Linked DNA regions of Homo sapiens. The protein of the gene in region 1 interacts with the protein of each later gene in a pairwise test. Each region holds a gene or a part of one and is shown in the gene's direction. Other genes may lie near its edges.

Region 1 (7,113 bases):
ATTTAATATTTTATCCTAGAACAGTGTGCAAGAATCTTCATAGTGATCCACATGTTTTCCACCACAGTTGTCCTATATGGCCCCCTTTGATCTACATGCTTCTTTTTAGCTGAATGCTGGTAAACGTCCTTTCTGACAGCCCCCTTTGCTCTTGCCTGCCATTATCTGCTGAAGTTCAGAAACCAGAGCATCACTTCAAACAGGAGAGTTAGGGAGTAGCCAGTCAGAAGAGATTCCGGAGGCATGCAAAGTTCTGGTATAATCATTCAAAGATGTTTGGGTAGGGGATGGGGGTGGTAGAGTTATATGTGAATACAGAGAGCTGTGGGGGTTGGCCTCTGGTCAGTGGTAAATAAGTGAAGTCAGGTGCCAGAGAGTCTAGACACAGTGATTTCAGTCATGGGTCTTTGGTATCTGATACTCAATATGGGACTTGTCTGATTGAACACTATTGCCTCTTCATCGCACAGACTGAAGCCCTTTTAGTGCTTTTCTGGTAAATTAGTAAAAGATGACAATGGACATAGTTAAAACAGAACAAATCTAGTTTTAATATTTTCTAGTTGTCAGCAATTACACTTACTTTTGAAGTGCCATCATAGCAATCAAATTAAAGACATACTCTTTCATGTGGAGTTTGAACTAAACATTGCTTTTTTAAATTTGAAAGCTTTAATTAAAATTGAAATGTTTATCTCTCTTATTATGAAAAACTAATTCTATATCATTATGCATTCCATTTATATTTAGTCCTAATTTAGCTCGATATGGGGAATGGGAGTTGAGTAAGTTTTCGAGCCATGCATTATTTTCTAAAAATCTAGTTTCTGATTGTTTATTTCTAGGTAGAATTTAATATGGAAATTACTTTAGAGAAAATTTACCTTCTAAAATAATGACCTGTAGCCCTGTGTTTAAGGCTAATTTTCATACTACAAAGGTTGATTTGAAGTAAATACTTTTTGTTAGCAATAAATACTTTGCTTGAAACATTGCTTCAATGTAACCGATTCTCAGATTGAAAAAAATCTATGGTAGGTTTTTAATTACAGTTTAGAAAACATAGCAATTAATTAGAGGATTGTCACCTACATTTTTGGTAATTTGTAATTTAATTTTTATTGGCAATTTTATTTGTAATTTAATTTTTATTGGGCAGATAGGTAGTGAAATCTGTTAAATATATATCCAGTAAATTAAGATTATTTTACTTTTGCCCTTGAATCTTTTTTTATTCTGTGGCATTATTAAGTATTAATGATTCTTACCCAGAGATACTATCAGTGGTAATATTTGTGGTTAAAGATCTGCCCTCAAGGGGAGCATATGATACATGCCAGCCGTTCACCTGCTACAGTGTTTTGTAATTTTCAGCATACAGATCAGTGTATTTGCTTAGAATTATACCTAACAATTTGAGTGGTATTGTGTTTTTTATTTAATTTAATTTAACCAAATTTAATTTTGGTTTTCAGCTGTTCATTGCTAACACATAGAAATGTGATTGATTTTTGTATATTGACCACATATCATTTTTGAAATGCAGAAGTCATCTTGAACTAACAGTAATCAAAACAAGATTTAACAGAAAGAGGTCTAAAATAAATAAATATTTATTATTCGCTGTGTTGGATTCATGAAGGCATGAATCCAACATGTTCTAAAAAGGTATTGCCCTGAGATAAAACATAGTAAGTTTTTATATTATAAATTTTAGGAATAACTTCTATTTGTTGTTAACAATTTGGGCTGAGAAAAAACTCTCTTTATGTACTATACACTAAGTTAATTTGCTGATTTGACAATAATAGAAGACTAGCTTCTCCAAAACATAGCATAAAATTTGTTCATTTGTCCTTTATTATAGCAGCTGTTTCTCACCATGACAAATCTAGATTACTGCTAAATGGCATAGGTAGCCTACCTTTTCCTTCTTACCTTTTTGTCTGTTGTTTTTCAGACCCTCTTTCTTTTTCTCTTATCACTAAAAATGTTTTTTTCTCATTTTATACCCATGCCCAAGTGATTGGATTTAGCCTGCAGCTTCAGTTTTCAACCATATATGCCAGTTCCTAAAATTATACCTCTAGTCCAGACATTTCTTCTAAACTCAGGCCTGTGTTTATGACTTCCTACTGAATACCTGCACTAGACTATCACATAAGCAGCTTAAACTCAACATATCTAAAACCAAAATTACTATCTTTCCTTTAAAGTTTTTTTCTACCCTAGTTTCTCCTTTTCGGTAGATGTTGGCAGCACCATGTATGTCATTTCTCAGTGCATAAATCCAGAAGTCATCTTTGACTCCTCCACTCCTTTAACCATAACATCTAGTCAGTTACTACATTCCATTTTGGTTCTGTTTTCTAAATATATGTCTAATCAATCCTTTTATCTCTACCTAGTTCAGACACCCATCTTCTCACTTGGACTTTTCCTCTAGCATCCTACCTGGTTCCCCATATTTTCTTGCAATTTTATTCTATTTTCTACACTGGGTAAATCTTTTTGAGACACAAATTTTATCCTGACACTTTCCTATTTAGAAGCTTTTAGCAGCTTCCCATTATCCTTCTTAGCACGAAGGCCAAAATCTTTAACATGTACTTCAAGACCCTGCATGATCTGGTTTTTACCTTCTTATCTCTTAAAACTGTTGTTTCCCTTTCACCAACAATGCTTGCTTGCTTTTAATTCTTCAAAGAGTACTGTTTTTTCCTGCATTGTGACCTTTGCATAAGCTATTTTCTTTGCTTGGAATGCTCTGCTTCCAAACAATATGTTTAATTATTTAAGGACAGATGTTTTATCTAATATTTCTCTTATATTCTCCACTGTACTTAGAAGTTTATATTTAATGCTGAGCATCTAAGAGTTCATTAACTGTTTATTCATCCAGTTGTTGAACAGTGAACGCCTGCCAGTTTTATGTGTTGAAATGTAAATAATTATATTATGCCCAATGTACAATCTAAGATAACACATTATGATAAAAATATTGCTTCTGTGTTTGGTTTTTTGTCTTTGTTTCTTGAGTAAAATGTGCCCTGTGCTTCTTGCTAGTTAATGAAGATGCTGTTTGAATGTTCAGATGAACGAATTGACTTGGAACTCATTTCTTTCTGCATTAATCTTGCTGCTAACAAAAGAAATGTACAGCTTATCTGTGAAGGTCAGTGCCTTTGAGTGTAGGTAACTTTTTTAGCATATGGTATTTGGTATATGATGGAAAATAGATATAAGGAATTAAGAATTATAATGATTATGTAAGTCCTGTTTTCAAATAATTTCTTCATTATAGCTATAATCCTTAAAGGTCAGATAGAATATTCTTACGTCATAAATGCAGACACTTACCTTCTGATAACATTTTACAAACCATGGTGAGTTAGCCTTAATTGAAATTTGATTTTTAAAACATTTTCTAGATAAAATGAAACTTTTTCTTTGCAAAGCAGTCTATTACAATATAAGGTAATAAAATACAAATGTATTAGATTATTTCTGTAATATCTTTGTAGAATAGCCTGTCATACATTATGATGTTTCAGAGTCTGCCCGATAGTTTTTGCCTTATTTGAAAAGTAGTATGTGTTTGTTATAAAAAGCACAAATGAGCAAAAAGGAAAAGATTTAAATCTTTATTTCCTACCATCCACAGATAATCATAGGTAAGATTTTAGTGTAATACTTCTGCATATTTTTAAATAAAAATGTGATTGTCTATATATCATGATACATTCTTTTAAAATTAGTAATATCTTGAAATAATATTTTATGTGATTAAGTGTTTTTATAAAGCATATTTGTTAATAACTGCAAAATTGTCTATTAAAGAATTTTGCCATAGTTTACTTCACTATTATGGATATAGTTCATTGCCACTTATTTTCCGTTACAAACAGTGCTATAGTAATTACCCATTCTCTGAATCTTTACACATTTTCATTTTTATATTGTTAGGATAAATTCCCAGAAGTACAATTTTTCTGAGTCAAAAGTATTTTTGTTTTTAACATTTGTAGTAGATATTGTAGGCACAAAAGAGCACATATGGTATGATTCTATTTATATGAAGTTCTATATCAGGCAAAATTTATATATGTTTAAAAATGAGACAGGGAAGAGGAAAAGTGATTATATCTGGGAAACAGGATTGACTGGGAAGGGGCACAAGTGAACTTTCTGGAGGGAATGAAAATACTCTGTATGTTGATATATGGTATGGGTTGCATCTAAATTAATCAAATTGTACCCTTAAGAGTTATGCATTTTACTAGATGTAAATTGTTGTGGCTTTTTTGAGAACTAAACAAAAAATTATTAAACTTAAGCTAACCTTAATTTTATTGGGGGACTTTTCTGTTTCAGGAAATGGGCTGAAGATGCTCATGAAGAGGGCTCTGAAGTTTAAGGATCCATTGCTGATGAAAATGATTAGAAACATTTCTCAGCATGATGGACCAACTAAAAATCTGTTTATTGTAAGTATCATTTTGGCTTTCTATTCAAATAGACTGGGAATTGAAATTGCTACATTTGGAAATACAGCTCTTACTGAGGTCTCGTCAAATATTAATTTATAATCCAAATTGCTCTTATGTTATCAACTTTGTTAGTTTAGCACCTAGAAATCTCAACCTATGTTTCAATGTTGTTTTTGTTTTGTGACCCTTACCCCTAATCCCTCCACCCCACTACAGTCTTCTTGCCTTAAACCAGTTCACCATAGGCTTCTTTAGCAATTTAGCTCAAGATTATTAAAACAAGAAAATCACATTTGATATTTACTTTTTCTTTCAATGAGTTAAATTGTTAGATTCCTGTGGGTTATTAGATTAAATAAAAAATAATTTAAATTTATATTAAAATTATGTTTTATTCAGGATTATGTTGGGGACCTTGCAGCCCAGATCTCTAATGATGAAGAAGAGGAGTTTGTGATTGAATGTTTGGGAACTCTTGCAAACTTGACCATTCCAGACTTAGACTGGGAATTGGTTCTTAAAGAATATAAGTTGGTTCCATACCTCAAGGATAAACTAAAACCAGGTTTGTGCTAAGTATTTCACTTTTGTATAATCACTAAGTTATTTCTTTCTGTTATGGATAAGGCTGCTAGAGCAGTATTGTGTGACTATTATTATGTTAGGAAAAGCCATTTCTTCTCACAGCTCTCTTCTCCCAGAAAGGTAGTCACTGGATCACCTCTTACATATATGTTCTCTTTTTCCTAAAAGTGTGTTTTCTTATGTTAGTTTCTATTTCCTATTCTACCTTTCTTGTGGTCTTTTGGTATTTTTTTATTCTGTCTCTTTAAAATTACCAAATACCATCCCTCTGCATATACATAAACACGCACAAAGGTCTTTGAGGCATTCAAATGAGTCTTTTATTTTCTGTGTCTATGTTGTCATTCAGTTGTACTCTCAAAGGCTCATTTCCACTTTTCTACTGCCCCCTGCCCCCACTATCACAAACTGTCATCAGCAAACATGGAAATTTGGAAAAAGGACAAATTTATAGCATATCAAGGATTCATATGACTTGATTTAATAGCTTTCAGTATCCTTTCTGTGTATTTACATTTTGATACTCTAAATGAATTTGGATCAGGACATTTCAGTGAAAACTTTCTATGGTTTGACTTCACTAGGTGCTGCAGAAGATGATCTTGTTTTAGAAGTGGTTATAATGATTGGAACTGTATCCATGGATGACTCTTGTGCTGCATTGCTAGCCAAATCTGGCATAATCCCTGCACTCATTGAATTGCTAAATGGTAAATAACCTTAATTTATTTTTATGTTAATGTCTAAACAGCTTATTGATTTAAATATTTAAATATAAAATGCAGAGTCTGTAATCTGTTTTTCTCATTACATTAATTGTTTCATAGCAACTTATATAATCAAGAAAAATGAATTAAATATACTGCTAACTGGGATTGGATAGAGTAATATCAAAGATCTTTAGCTTTCAAAGTTAAGAATGTTGCTGTAAAGCAGTTCAGGACCAATTTTACAGAAGTACTCTCCTCACCAACCTTGAACAACCAATATAGTAGTCACAACTTAATCAAGGGGAATACATTCCAAGACCCCCAGCAGATGCCTGAAACTACAGATACTATCAAACCCTATATATACTTTTTTTTTCTAAACATACCAATGATAAAGTTTAATTTATAAATTAGGCACAGTAAGAGATTAACAACCATAATTAATAATAAAACAGAAAAATTATAACAGTATGCTTAGCATCACTACTCTTATACTTTGGAGCCATTATTAAATGAAATAAGGGTTACTTGAATACAAGCATTGCAATACTATGCTAGTGGACCTGATAACTGAGATGGCTACTAAGGGACTAATGGGCAGGTGGCATGTACATCCTGGATACACTGGACAAAGGGATGATTCATGTCTTGGATGGGATGGAGTGGAACAGTGGGAAATTACATCACACTATTCAGAATTGTGCATAATTTAAAACTTATGAATTATTTCTAGGATTTTTCATTTAATATTTTTGACCATGGTTGACTGCAGTTAACTAAAACCATGGAAAGAAAAACCACAGATAAGGGAGGACCACTGTATTATATCACTTCTTTTTGTTTGTTTGTTTGTTTTTGTTTTGACTTTTTGAGACATAGTTTTGCTCTTGTTGCCCAGGCTGGAGTGCAATGGCATGATCTCGGCTCACCACAACCTCCGCCTCCCGGGTTCAAGCGATTCTCCTGCCTCAGCCTCCTGAGTAGCTGGGATTACAGGCATGCGCCACCACACCCAGCTAATTTTGTATTTTTAGTAGAAATGGGGTTTCTCCATGTTGGTCAGGCTGGTCTTGAACTCCCGACCTCAGGTGATCCGCCCACCTCGGCCTCCCAAAGTGCTGAGATTACAGGCGTGAGCCACTGTGCCCGGCTATATCACTTCTTTCTGTTGAGATTTGTGTTGGTTTGAATTGGATCTCTTCTCTTGTGCAAATCTTATTTTTTAAAACTTGATTTCTAAGTTGGAAGGTCCATTTGGAAGCTGATTCTAAACATCATATTCCCTTCTAGATCCGAATTTATTGTCCTCTGAAATTTCTTAGTTGATG
Region 2 (7,113 bases), on another chromosome or scaffold:
AAAAAAAAAAAGCTAACATGTGACCACGATGTGCCAGAGCTGGTGCTGTGTCTGGGGAACTGATGCTTATGCCCCAGCACCTCTGAAATGTTGGGTAAATGGAGGCAGGGCCACCCAGCATGCTCCTGTTGAAGGCTGGGACTCCTCAGCCCTTCCTCACCTCTGCTGATTGACAGCACGCCCCACACCCCCAGGTTTTTTGTAGCCAGTGCTATCTGGTCAAAGGGTCAGTGGGCCTCTTATGGCCAGGGCTTCCTCCCGGGGTGATGGGTCTGCTCTGTGCCAGAAACAGAGGACACAGCGCCTCCACAGCACTGCTTCCCCACTCATCCTACCCTAAGGAGCGCCTCATCTGCCATCATTCATTCATTGGTTCATTCCACCAGTAATTCTTAAGTGCCTACTCTTACTAGGCACTGCCTCAGCTCTGGGATTACAGAAGTGAACAAGGCAAGATTTCTCCCTCCCCCAGCTATGGAATTTATATTCCGGTGAACAGGAATAAATGATGGATAGATGGATACCAAAATTTCAGAGAGTATCAGGGGCTCTCAGTGGACTAAGGCAAAGGCTGGAGCAGAGGGTTCTCTTTATTTAGATCGGGTGGTCAGGGAAGGCAACATTTGAGCAGAGACCTGAACAAAGGGGACCCAGCTTTACAAAGATCTGGGGAAGGGGAACAGTGGGGCACATGCCCTGAGGTGGGAGTGAGTGTGTCTCACTGGAGAACAGCAAGACCAGAACAGCAGGCATTGAGGCAGAGATGGGAGGAAGTAGGATCAGAAAGGCTGGCAGGAGCCAGATCACATAGGACCTTGGGGGCCATGGTGAGGACTTGGGGTATTTTATTTGATGTAGTGGAAGCCATTAGAGGATTTGAAGCAGGGAGTGACATGATTACATAAAGATTTTGAAGGGGGACTGACTTAGGCCCAGCCTGGGAAATACAGAAATAAAGCATAAAACCATGAGATGTTCCCTCTGTCACAGGGTTTCGATACAAACAGGAGAGGTGGGGACCTAAGAAGGGAAAACTTCTGCAGAGGTGGAGTTACAGACTAGGAATTTACAGTGGGGGCTTCCAGGAGGAGGTAACACTGAAGCCCGCCCGGCCTTTTTTTTTTTTTTTTTTTTTTTTTTTTTTTTTTTTTGAGACAGAGTCATCTCACTCTGTGACCCAGGCTGGAGTGCAGTAGTGTGATCACAGCTCACTGAACCTTCCGCCTCCCGGGTTCAAGTGATCCTTCCACCTCAACTTTCCAAGTAGGCAGGGCTACAGGCGTGCGCCACCAAGCCTGGCTAATTTTTGTATTTCTAGTAGAGACGGTGGTCTTGCCATGTTGGCCAGGCTGGTCTTGAACTCCTGACCTCAGGTGATCCGCCTGCCTTAGCCTCCCAAAGTGCTAGGATTACAGGCATGAGCCACCGCGTCCAATCTGAAGCTGGGCTTTAAAGGATGGGCAGGATTATCAATTGTGTGACCCTGGGTGATTTGCCAATCTCTGCCACCTTCAGTTCCTTCATCTGCCAAATGGGCATGATAGTAGAACTACCTTACTATTATTATTATGACTGGGAAGTAGCCAGGAATGGCAAAAAGAAAAGTGGAGAAATTCGGAACAATTATGGCAATATCACACACTAATAATAACAGCTAACACTTTTAAAGGCCCTATTGCTTCAGGCAATAAATTTTTACTATAACGCTAGAAGGTAAATTCTGTTACGAGCCCCATTTCATAGAGGAGAAGTCTCGGTGTGAAGATTAAAGTAAACTGTACAGGGTTATGCACCTAGGAAGAAGCAGGGCTGAGACTCAAACCCAGGCAGCACACTGTATACTTTGGAGCCTCTATGTGATAGAAGGTAGTAAAATATCTCAGCAGTTAAGAGATTGAGCTCTGATGACAAAACTAATTCAAGCCTTTGTCCTGCCATTTTCTAACCATGTGACCTCTTGGCCAAGTGACTTCTGAGCCTCTGTTAGCTAGTCAAGAAAAATGGGTTGTGGCTGGGTGCAGTGGTTTACTCTTGTAGTCCCAGCAATTTGGGAGTCCAAGGCTGGAGGATTGTTTAAGCCCAGAAGTTTGAAGCTACAGCAAGCCATAATCACACCACTGCACTCCAGTCTGAGTGACAGAAAAAGACCCTGTCTCTTTATTTATTTATTTATTTCATTGAGATGGAGTCTCGCTCTGTCATCCAGGTTGAAGTGCAGTGGCACGATCTCGGCTCACTGCAACCTCTGCCTCCTGGGTTCAAGTGATCCTCTCACCAAAGCCTCTCAAATAGCTGGGACTCCAGGCACCCGCCACCACACCCAGCTAATTTTTGTATTTTTAGTAGAGACAGGGTTTCACTATGTTGGCCAGGCTGGTCTCGGTCTCCTGACCTCAAGTGATCCACCTACCTTGGCCTCCCAAAGTGCTGGGATTACAGGCATGAGCCACTGCTCCTGGCCAACCCTGTCTCTTTAAAAAAATAAAAAAGGGCTCGGGGTGGGGGTCATTCATGAGTCAATTCCTATAGAGAGCTTAGCACAGTACAAACACTAGCCATGATCCTCATGGCTGTTAGTGACAACCCGGGTAGAAAGTAAGCTAGAACCATCCAGTATGTTTAGGGAATACTTCAGTCAGATTTTGTCACGATCATGCTGTGTAATAAGCTACCCCCAAAACTCGGCATCTTAAAACAGCCATTGTGTATTACTGCTCCTGCATTTGCGGACCAGCTGGAGGGTAAACTGATGGAGGCTGGGCTCAGCTGGAGAGGCTTTGCTCCAAGTAGCTCTCATCTTCTTGGACAAGCAGGCTAGCTGAGGCATGTTGTCATGGTGATGACACAAGTGCAAGAGGGCCAGCAGACATGCAAGGCCTGGGCTTGGAATTGGCACCCTGTCATTCTTAGCCAAAGCAAGTCATACGGCTGAGCCAGAGTCAGGGTGCACTCTGCCTTTGTTTTTGTTTTTGTTTTTGTTTTCTCGGAGACAGAGTCTCGCTCTGTCACCCAGGCTGGAGTTCAATGGCGCAATCTCAGCTCACTGCCACCTCCACCTCCCAGGTTCAAGTGATTCTCATGCCTCAGCCTTCCAAGTAGCTGGGATTACAGGTGAGCACCATGATGCTCGGCTAATTTTTGTATTTTTAGTAGAGATGAGGTTTCACCATGTTGGCCAGGCTGGTCTCGAACTCCTGACCTCAAGTGATCCGCCTGCCTTAGCCTCCCAAAGTGCTGGGATTACAGGTGTGAGCCACCGTGCCTGGCCATACTCTGCCTCTTTAGCAGAAAGAATGGCAAAGTCTCATGGCAGAGTGTGGACACAGGAAGGGGTAGAATTGGGACCCTGACTGCAGTGTGCCACGGGGGTGATAGACACGAGGGGGAAGCCACGTTCCTCCCTTCTGCCCCAGGTTTGCACTTCCTGCTTCCAGGGTAGCTGGGAACTCAAGGCCTGGAGGACTAAGGCCTTGGCTGTTGTTTCTTTTTTTTGAGACGAGGTCTCACTCTATTGCCCAGGCTGGAGTGCAATGGCAAGACCATGGCTCACTGCAGCCTCAACCTCCCAGCCTCAAGTGATCCTCCCAACTTAGCCTCCCAAGTGGCTGGGACTGTAGGCATGCACCACCACACCCAGGTATTTTTAAAAAGTTTTTGTAGAGATGAGGTCTTGCCATGTTGCACAGGCTGGTCTCGAACTCCTGGGCTCAAGTGACCCGCTTCAGCCTTGGCTGTTGGTTCTTGACCATTCATGGAGCTCCCCAAAGCCCAGGACAGAATCAGGAGGGCAGAGGACACAGGAGGAGCTCCCTACTCCCTCATGGGAGCCTGGGACAGGGATTAGACCTGGGCGGAGGGGCTCATGGATGTTCCAGGCCAGGAAAGGACCTGCCACAGAGCGGGGCAGCCTGAGGCAGTGAGAGGAAAGACGTGTTTCTAGCTGAGGCAGCGGGCCAGAACACTTGGGTCTGCGGCGTGGCAGGTCTGGGGTGACCCACCTTTCTTCCCACCCCACAGTCCTGATCCTGGAGGCCATCGAGAACCACAACCTCGCAGACACGGTGCTCAAGATCACGGACTTCGGCCTCGCCCGCGAGTGGCACAAGACCACCAAGATGAGCGCTGCGGGGACCTACGCCTGGATGGCGCCGGAGGTTATCCGTCTCTCCCTCTTCTCCAAAAGCAGTGATGTCTGGAGGTGCTGAAAGGCGCGGCCGGGATGGCCTCTGGGGAGTAAGGGAGGGAGGAAGGGGTGAGGGCAGAGTGGGAGGGAGGGTCTCCTGCTGAAGCCAGGATCTCAGTCTGACAAAGGGACCTGCTGGCAAGGTCAGGCCACCAGACAAGTGCCAGTTACCTGTTCAGCTAGCACAAATGGCAACTAGGGGGCACACTGGATTAGAATAAAAAGCTCATAGGATCTAGAGACAAGGCCGGGCGCGGGGGCGCACACCTGTAATCCCAGCACTTTGGGAGGCCGAGGTGGGCGGATCACTTGAGGTCAGGAGTTTGAGACCAGCCTGACCAACATGGTGAAACCCCATCTCTACTAAAAATACTAAAATTACCTGGGCGTGGTGGCAGATGCCTGTTGTCCCAGCTACTCGGGAGACTGAGGCAGGAGAATCACTTGAGGCCGGGAGGCAGAGATTGCAGTGGGCTGGGATTGGCCACTGCACTCCAGCCTGGGTGACAGAGCGAGACTCTGTCTCCAAAAAAAGAAAAAATTTAAAAAAGCATAGAGACAGCACATGGATGCTAGCACTGAAAGCCCCCTCAGACACTAGCCCATGCACTGTCCCATCTGTCAGACAGGAAAATGATTAATTCACTCATTCATTCCTTCATCTAACTGCACCGGGTTCTAGGGATATAGCAGAGAAGAAAAATACATGCAATCCCTGCCCTCAGGAATAGTAAGTCAGTCAACATACAAGAAGCTCTTTTTTATAAAGCTGTTTTTTAAGAAAATTATAATTTTTAAAGACAAGTACACCAGAAAAAAGTGTTAGTACAAAGTGCGAGGAGGCTGAGAGGAAGGCACTTTAAGGGCTGGAAGACTACTTTTGGGAACGCTTCTCTGAGCAATCTGAGAAATGATACTTCATCTGAGTTCCAAGTGGCAAAAAGGAACCAGTCACGAAAAGTTTGGAGGAAGAAGGAGGTGCTGAGGTGAGCATGGTGTGTCCCAGAAACAGCAAAGAGGCCCATGTGGCTGCCACTGTGCAGGCAAGGAAGAGAGAGGTAGGAAATTATGTAGGAGAGGGAGCTGGAAGGCCCTGTGGGTGAGGGAGTGGCCTTCAGGTTTTATTCTAATGAAGTAGGAAGCCATGAGGAGCCATGTCTGAATAGAGTGGTAGCTCACACCTATAATCCCAGTACTTTGGGAGGCCAAGGTGGGAGGATCACTTGAGGCCAGGAATTTGAGACCAGCCTGGTCAATGTAGTGAGACCCCATGTATATGAAAAAGAAATTTTTAAATTAATTTTTATAAAAGGAAGTAAATAAAAACTCCTTTGGAGGCCGGGTGCGGTGGCTCACGCCTGTAATCCCAGCACTTTGGGAGGCCCAGGTGGGTGAATCCCTTGACACCAGGAGTTTGAGACCAGCCTGGCCAACATGGTGAAATCCCACCTCTACTAAAAATACAAAAATTCGGCCAGGCGCGGTGGCTCACGCCTGTAATCCTGGCACTTTGGGAGGCCGAGGTGGGTGGTTCACTTGAGGCCAGGAGTTCATTCAGGACTAGCCTGGCCAACATGGTGAAACCCCATCTCTACTAAAAATACAAAAATTAGCCAGGCATGGTGGTGGGTGCCTGTAGTCCTAGCTACTCAGGAGGCTGAGGCAGGGGAATTGCTTGACTGCAGGAGGCAGAGGTTGAGATGGCGCCGTTGCACTCCAGCCTGGGTGACAGAGCAAGACTCCATCTGAAAAAAAATACTTAAAAATAAAAGCTCCTTTGACTGTTAGGTAGAGACAGCCAATGATGGGTCTGTTGCTGTCACCAGTGAGAGTTGATGGTGGCCATGGAGACTTTCAACCCAGGACCTTCTGCTTGGTTGGAGCCAAACCTGGGTCTCCCCATTTACTGTTCCCGTCAATTCCCAGCTGAGGCTCCAGATTGTCCAAGCAGCAAATTAATGGGTATGGGACTGAGACAGATCAGACAGGAAGTCTCCAGCTCAGCCTAGAGCAGAGCAGCCCTTTGGGAGAATTTCCAACTGGCTGTACATCAGGCGTTCATTTGTGCTACCTTTTTTTTTTTTTTTTTTTTTTTTGGGACAGAGTCTCACTCTGCCGCCCAGGCTGGAGTGCAATGGCACAATCTCAGCTCACTGCACCCTCCTCCTCCCAGATTCAAGTGATTCTTGTGCCTCAGCCTCCCGAGTAGCTGAGATTATAGGCATGCACTGGCTAATTTTTATATTTTTAGTGGAGACAGGGTTTCACCATGTTGGCTAGGCTGGTCTTGAAGTCCTGACCTCAGGTGATCCGCCCGCCTCAGCCTCCTAGAGTGCTGGGATTACAGGCATGAGTCACTGCACCCGGCCGGGCAGGCTAATTCTTTCTGATGTGGTCCTGTCCTGTACTTAGCAGGATGCAGGATATCCACACCTCCCCGCCATAAACTTCAGTAACATTCTCAGTCATTATTACAATCACAGTAACCCCATAGGTTTCCAAGGACATGGGAGAGAGGGGTGGATCATGCTACCCTCCAGTTATAAACCACTGTTTCTCCCCCACCTTGTATGGTCTCCATTCTGAAGTTTACTTCATGATCCAAAATGACTGCTTGAGCTCCAGCGTTTTTTGTTTTTTTTTTTTTTTTGAGCTGGAGTCTTGCTCTGTCGCCCAGGCCGGAGTACAGCGGCGCGATCTTGGCTCACTGAAACCTCTGCCTCCTGGGTTCAAGCAATTATCCTGCCTCAGCCTCCCAAGTAGCTGGGACTACAGGCACATGCCACCAGGCCCAGCTAATTTTTGTATTATTTATTTATTTTTTTTAATTTTTCAGTAGAGACGGGGTTTCACCATATTGGCCAGGACAGCCTTGATCTCTTGACCTCATGATCTGCCCACCTGGGCCTCCTAAAGTGCTGGGATTACAG
Region 3 (7,357 bases), on another chromosome or scaffold:
CTCAGCCTCTTTTCTTCTGTTTCAATGGAAGGGAAGTTCCCTATCATCACTGTCCACTATTCAAACCCAATATTAACTTCTAAACTTTTTTTTCAAAATTATCATCTCATATTTATATAGACATGCCCTGACAGTGGCATCATGAGAAAAAAAAGTTGTTTTGGAATATGCAGTAACACGAGAATGTAGAAAATATTTTGTTATCTATATGACTGAATTTATAATCTCTGATATTGTTTATGATTATAGACAATGGAGAAAACAATGAGAATTTATCCTCTCAGTAGGTATTAAAACTGTCTGTTTGTCCTTTTATTGATAATCTTTTTATATGTTATATAATTCCTTTATAATACAGCTGTTATAAATGGTGTTGCTCTCCAAACATCTTCAGCAAGAAAATGTTTGACTCTCACTGGAGCCAAAGTAATGGCCATTTTCCCTTTCTGGGTTCAACCAGTTGCCTCTGAAAACTCTCACTCTCTCTTTTTTTTTTTTTTTTTTTTTTGAGACAGTCTTTCTCTGTTGCTCAGACTGGAGTGCAGTGGTGCAATCACGGCTCACTGCAGTCTCCACCTGCTGGGCTCAAGTGATCCTCCCACATCAGCCTCCTGAGTAGCTGAGATCACAGGTGTGCACCACTATGCTTGGCTAATTTTTTTTTTTTAACATTTGCAGGGACATGGCCCTGACACGTTGCCCATGTTGGTCACAAATTCCTGAGCTCAAGCGATCTTCCTGCCTTGGCCTCTCAAAGTGCTGGGAATGCAGGTGTGAACCACTGTACCGAGCCTGAAAACTATTTCTGTGTTTGACTTTCTTTAAGATTAGACCTCAGATTCAGGATTAAACAGAATCAAGCCAACAAACAAACAAAGCCTTACTGATTAATAGGGTGCCTTTTCTTTCCAAACTTCTTTGAACCCACAAATACTCATCTTGCTTTAATGGCTCATGGAATAAGAAAGGCAGACAAAGGAGATGACAGTAAAAATAACAGATAGTTGATATGCTTCTAATTCTTCCAAATTGGTCTATTTTGTTATGTTTTCCCCATTTGTCAGGCCTACATTTTAGGAAGTCCAGTAAAGACACAAAGGATGGCTAACCCATCATTCCTAGGGTCATTTATGAGTATTAGGTTTGTTTATTCACACATATGAAGAAAAGTTGTTCAAATGAAAGTGTTTAGGAAATGTTATATATTTTTTTCAGGTACATAATATATTCTTACAGTAAACCTGATAAAATTACTCAGGGTGAGGGGGGCAATAAAAAGCTATTTAAAAACTCTTTATAATATTTGGAATAAACTTGTTTTTTACTAGTAAGAAGAAAATTAGTTTGCAAGTCATATTGTAAAGGAAGTGTATATAGAAATTATTTATTCATCCATAGCACCACAGTGGTATGTAGAATTCATACAAAAGACAGATAAGATGTAGAAACATAAGGTTAAAAAATAACTTGACTAAGATTTGTGCAGAACCCAGGCTCAAATAATCATATGTCTTGCCCTTAGATCCTATAGGCATGAGATATAAAGCCAGTTAGGAAGATGGGAGCTTTTTCCACATGAAATATTATAGATATGACATAATACCTGACTAGAACTCCAGGAGCTCTCATTTACAAAACATTTATGTATTAGATGACTTTTTGCTAAATTTTTGCAAAATATTAATGAAGATTGCCAATGCCCTTTACTTATGATAAAAACATACCACATACAAAACTTGACAAGACATGCTAGATCGATAGTCCAGAAATTAGAGGCACATTGTAATTCATGAGAGAACATTTATACTTGACCTCAGTAGGAGGGGCCAAATTAAGTACTACTTACTACCAACACCACCTTAAGGGTCAGAGTTTTAGTTTTGGATCCATGCTTTCCACTGCAGCTGAAATGAATATGCAAATGCTGAGGATATATGATAGCAACTTCTCTGTCAAAAAAGAAGACAGCCTATCAGAATATAACCAGTTTTTGCATTTTTTGTCTTAGCTACTGTGGTCATTGCAACTGGTAGACCATTCTTCCATGACAGTGGAGTTGTCATCATATTCCTTCTACGATTTTATATGAATAAAGATCACATTATTGTATATTAAAAACCATGCTTATTACTGTTGGTTTTGGTACCATGCCTACTCTGGAATAAGTCAAGTATACTGCCCAACTCTTGAGCATTAAGTCAGCACTATTCTATGTTGAAGGATATAGTATCTGTAATGAACCTGGCTGCATTTAAATTAACCCTGTCAAAGAATACAGTGCACTCAAGTTTCAATAGTCTATGCTTTTTAAAAGAAGAACCCACTACAGAAGAATCAACAAAATGACTCTTCTGGATCATGCTTTTAGAGCTACATCACTACAAATTATAGATCCCCATCCATGGTGTCAGGCACAACATGAAAGAAATTTCTGAACGGAAATAATACTGGTGAATAACTTTTCCAATGTATACAGCCTATCAAAAAATCAGGGAGCTAAAATGCTTACGTTAAATCTTAAAAATATATTAATAGATACTGCCAATTGTCAAAATACAACAAAAATAGTGGCTATTCAAGCTATGTTTCACAGATCACATGGCTCTAGGTTACTCTAGCTATTAAAGGAGTGCGTACCCTCATTGGAAAGAAAGCTGCACACATATTCTAGATGAGTTAAGAGGGTATCCATGACCTGGCTAATTACAACATAATTCATTTTGGTACTTGAGTTCTGAGGTCTGCTAGGAAACTGGGAAGAAAGACTGTACGAGACACACAGATAATTCCATTTGTGCAAGTAGTGCTAATAAAATGTGACTTCCTTGCACTATTAAATACCCCAAATCTTGCTTTATCGAGATGGCATATGATTATTTACTTATTCTTCTTCTTGTTCTGTCACCCAGGCTGGGGTGCAGTCATGCAATCATAGTTCACTACAGCCTTAAACTCCTGGCCTCAAGTGATCCTCCTGCCTCAGCCTCCCAAGTAGCTGAGACTACAGGCATGAATAACCACACCCAGCTAAGATGACATTAAAATTTTTAAATGCATCTACAAATAAAACTTAGGATTTATGACAAAGGTAACAATGCAGTAATATGAAGAAAGGATAATAATCTTTTTTCACAAAATGGTGTAAATGGTGCTATATGAATTGTACATCCACACAGGAAAAGAATATTGGGTCCACTGATACCTTACAGCATACACAAAACTAAATTTCAGTCAATTGCAGATCTAAATATAAAATGTAAAACTAACAATCTTAGAAGAAAATATAAAAGAATGCCTTCAGTCACCATGGAGTATGCAACGATTTATTAAACAGAACACAAAAAGCATTAACCACCAAATTTTAAAACTGGAAAAATTGAACTATATTAAAATTCATGCTTGGTGTCAAAAATCACCATTAAGAAAGGGAAATATCAATCAATAGACAAGAATGATATTCATTACAAATATATCTGACAAAGGACTTATACCCAGAATATATTTTTGATAAAACTCAAAAATTAATGTGAAAAAGACACACAAGTAGAAAAATGAGCAAAAAAATCTGAGCAGCCATTTACAAAAGAGAACACAGTATGGCTAATAAGCATATAAAGTGCTCAACTTTACTACTCATCAGTGCAATGCAAATACAACCACAGTGTAATACTTCTACCCCTACAAAAGAATGGCTAAAATAAAAACAATGGGGAAATAGCAAATGCTGTTGAGAAGGTGGAGCAACCACTCTGAAAAAGTGGCAGTATTTATAAAAGTTGAACATCATTATATTCAATGACCCAATAATTCTAATCCTAGATAAATATGCATTTGTTCCAACTAAAGACAAGTCTAGAATGTTCAGCTACCCTAGGGGTACTATTCCCAAACTGAAAATGACAAAATGGCCAGTAACAGTAGAATTGATAAAAAAAATTGTGACATATTTAGGCAATAGAATATCAAACAAGGAAGAATATAAAGAACCCTCAGCTATACACGAGGTGGCTGAAACTTACAAAGAGTGACTGAAAAAACCTGACACAAAAATAATGCATGCACTATGATTCCATTTATATAAAGTCTGTCGGAAGTCTAGGTAATCGTTATTCTTGGGATGTTGGAAGCAGGTACTGGAAGGGGACAGGAGGGGGGGTTCTGGGATACAATGTTCTTTATTTTCTCTAAGTTCCTGTTATATGGGTTTCTCCAGTTTGTGAAAATTTATTCAGATGTACCCAAATCAAAAAGTTAAAACTGAAACAAAAATAATAATTGCAATGGATCGCGTTATTTAAAACAAAGGCGACCACAATGAACTCCTCTCTCCCCACCCCCTAACCCCTGCGCACGCACACGCACAATGAAGCGAAACCTCATTGGCTGGGATCAGTGACGCACTTCTGAAAGCCGCAGTTTGGCACCATCTTTTCCATCTCCTGCTCCTTCCGCCTTCCCGCCATCCGCCCTCCACACGATTCAGCCCGGTGGTGTTAGCCCCCTGGACTCGATTCCTGAGGCAAACAGTGCCCCTTAAGGTCGGCGACAGCCTCTTCTGGGTTCACTGCAGTCCAACCGGTTCCCTACCCTCTGCCATTATGAACATCCGCAACGCTCAGCCAGACGACCTGATGAATATGCAACACTGCAACCTCCTTTGCCTTCCTGAGAACTACCAGATGAAATACTATTTATATCATGGCCTTTCCTGGCCCCAGCTTTCTTACATCGCTGAGGATGAGGACGGGAAGATTGTGGGCTATGTTCTGGCCAAAATGGAGGAGGAACCAGATGATGTCCCGCATGGCCATATCACCTCACTGGCCGTGAAGCGTTCACACCGGCGCCTCGGCCTGGCCCAGAAGCTGATGGACCAGGCCTCCAGGGCCATGATAGAGAACTTTAACGCCAAATACGTGTCTCTGCACGTCAGGAAGAGTAACCGGCCAGCCTTGCACCTTTATTCTAACACCCTCAACTTTCAGATTAGTGAGGTGGAACCTAAATACTATGCAGATGGGGAAGATGCTTATGCTATGAAGCGGGATCTCTCGCAGATGGCAGATGAGCTGAGACGACAAATGGACCTGAAGAAGGGCGGGTATGTGGTCCTGGGCTCCAGGGAGAACCAGGAGACCCAGGGCAGCACACTTTCTGATTCTGAAGAGGCCTGTCAGCAAAAGAACCCGGCTACCGAAGAAAGTGGCAGTGACAGCAAAGAACCTAAGGAGTCTGTGGAGAGCACCAACGTCCAGGACAGCTCAGAAAGCTCGGATTCCACCTCCTAGAGCATGCTTAAGGTATTCTGTCTTCCCTGACCCAGTACCCCCTTCTCCTAAATCCCTGCATCCTGCCTTGGCCTGCCCAATTCCATCCTGTCTTACCCCATTCTGGCCCTGCGAGATTTTACGGTAAAAACCACCTGGTGACCTTAGGGAGAAGTTAGAGTGAGTTGAGGGAGACTCATTACACGCTATTGGAAGTTAAATAGGATACCAGCTCATGCTGAAAGTAGATTAATTTCAATGAAGAAACAAGCATTTATCCTGCTTTTTGGGCATGAGTTGTATTTCAGGGTAACCACGTAGTTGATGAAAGGCATTTTTTTCTTTATGGAATTCCAGTTAGTAATAATGATAGAAATATAAAATCATCATTTTCCAACTCTTGATGAAATAATGGACCCAGCCAAGAGTCATCAATGGCTAATAGCATTAGGTAAAAGTTGGAGCACTTTGTAATGATGGATCAGACTGACAACACTTGAAGTCAGTGTAGTCAGTCTTCACTAAACGTGGAGACAAATATGTGTCTCCTTATGCAACAGGAAGTGCACAGTACTACCTATGAAATATTCTTTCCAAAAGAAAATTATGAGATCTGACTACCATTTTACAGAAAATAGAGGGACTTGTTAAACTATACCATGATGCAAACAGCCAAATCCAGAATGAGAGGTTTTTACAAAACAAATGACCTGGTTTCTTCAACAAATAAATGGCACACACACAAAAAAAGATGAAGCATTTTCTGTTAAACTTTACAGATACATTAAACTCAACTGCTATGGACATTGTTTGGATACTGATTCAAACAAACCATGTATAAGACATTTTTGAGATAATCAGGCAAAATTTGAACGGGGACTATATTAAGGAATTACTAATAATTTTATTAGAGGAGCTAAATGGTATTGTATTATGTTTAGAAAGTCCTTATCTGTTAAAGATACATACAGAAATAATTATAGCTGAAATAATAGGATGCCTAGGATTTCCTTTAAAATAATCCAGCAAAAAAAGAAGAAAAAGATTGAAAGAGGGAAAATGAAATAAGAATGGCAATGATAATTGTTGGGTTGGGAAATGGGTACTTAGGGGGTTCCTTATGCCATTTACTCTTTCGAATGTGTGAAAATTAGCATGAAAAGTTAAAGAGCCAAAACAATTACTGTACTTTTTTTTTTTTTTTTTGAGACAGAGTCTCGTTCTGTCGCCCAGGCTGGAGTGCAGTGGCGCGATCTCGGCTCACTGCAACCTCCACGTCCTGGGTTCAAGCTATTCTCCTGCCTCAGCCTCCCAAGTAACTGGGACTACAGGCGCCCGCCACCTCGCCTGGCTAATTTTTGTATTTTTGTATCTTTTTTTCTTTTTTTGAGATGGAGTCTAGCTCTGTCGCCGAGGCTGGAGTGCCGTGGCACTGTCTTGGCTCACTGCAAGCTCCGCCTCCCGGGTTCACGCCATTCCGCTGCCTCAGCCTCCCGAGTAGCTGGGACTACAGGCGCCTGCCACCACGCCTGGCTAATTTTTTTGTATTTTTAGTAGAGACGGGGTTTCACTGTGTTAGCCAGGATGGTCTTGATCTCCTGACCTCGTGATGCGTCCGCCTCGGCCTCCCAAAGTGCTGGGGTTACAGGCATGAGCCACCGTGCCCGGCCTAATTTTTGTATTTTTAGTAGAGACAGAGTTTCAGCATATTGGCCAGGCTGGTCTCGAACTCCTGACCTTGTGATCTGCCTGCCTCAGCCCCCCAAAGTGCTGCGATTACAGGCGTGAGCCACCGCGCCCAGCTCTTGTACTTCTTAATACACACTTATGCTAATACTAAGAAACCACTGAAACTAAGTTTTAAAGGATTGGTATGTTAGAAACAACTTAATTGTAATAATATACCACAGTATTTCTTCCATCAAAGGACTTTGTATCGCCTTAGGAATTTCAAGGGTCGGTGAGCTACTGGCAGTTTACAGGCTTTAACATCTTAATCTAGTCACCTTACCCTTACATGTATGAAAGGCAGCAACTTCTCATGGCAAAGTCTAGTCATAAATAGTGTATTCTGTATATAATTTCAGTAA

The links.
Region 2: the proteins of KIFAP3 (region 1) and MAP3K10 interact in a two-hybrid assay, tested with the Homo sapiens proteins (one study listed by BioGRID).
Region 3: the proteins of KIFAP3 (region 1) and NAA11 interact in binary tests that used the Homo sapiens proteins (3 or more experiments, as listed by UniProt).

What each region holds. Positions count from the first base shown.
Region 1 is NC_000001.11:169,980,644-169,987,756, reverse strand, and holds part of KIFAP3 (kinesin-associated protein 3), read left to right. Parts: intron 1-3,066; coding exon 3,067-3,175; intron 3,176-4,374; coding exon 4,375-4,487; intron 4,488-4,889; coding exon 4,890-5,055; intron 5,056-5,659; coding exon 5,660-5,785; intron 5,786-7,113. UniProt on the Homo sapiens protein: Involved in tethering the chromosomes to the spindle pole and in chromosome movement. Binds to the tail domain of the KIF3A/KIF3B heterodimer to form a heterotrimeric KIF3 complex and may regulate the membrane binding of this complex.
Region 2 is NC_000019.10:40,194,358-40,201,470, forward strand, and holds part of MAP3K10 (mitogen-activated protein kinase kinase kinase 10), read left to right. Parts: intron 1-4,017; coding exon 4,018-4,198; intron 4,199-7,113. UniProt on the Homo sapiens protein: Activates the JUN N-terminal pathway.
Region 3 is NC_000004.12:79,323,119-79,330,475, reverse strand, and holds the start of NAA11 (N-alpha-acetyltransferase 11), read left to right. Parts: upstream 1-4,414; 5' UTR 4,415-4,598; coding exon 4,599-5,288; 3' UTR 5,289-5,300; intron 5,301-7,357.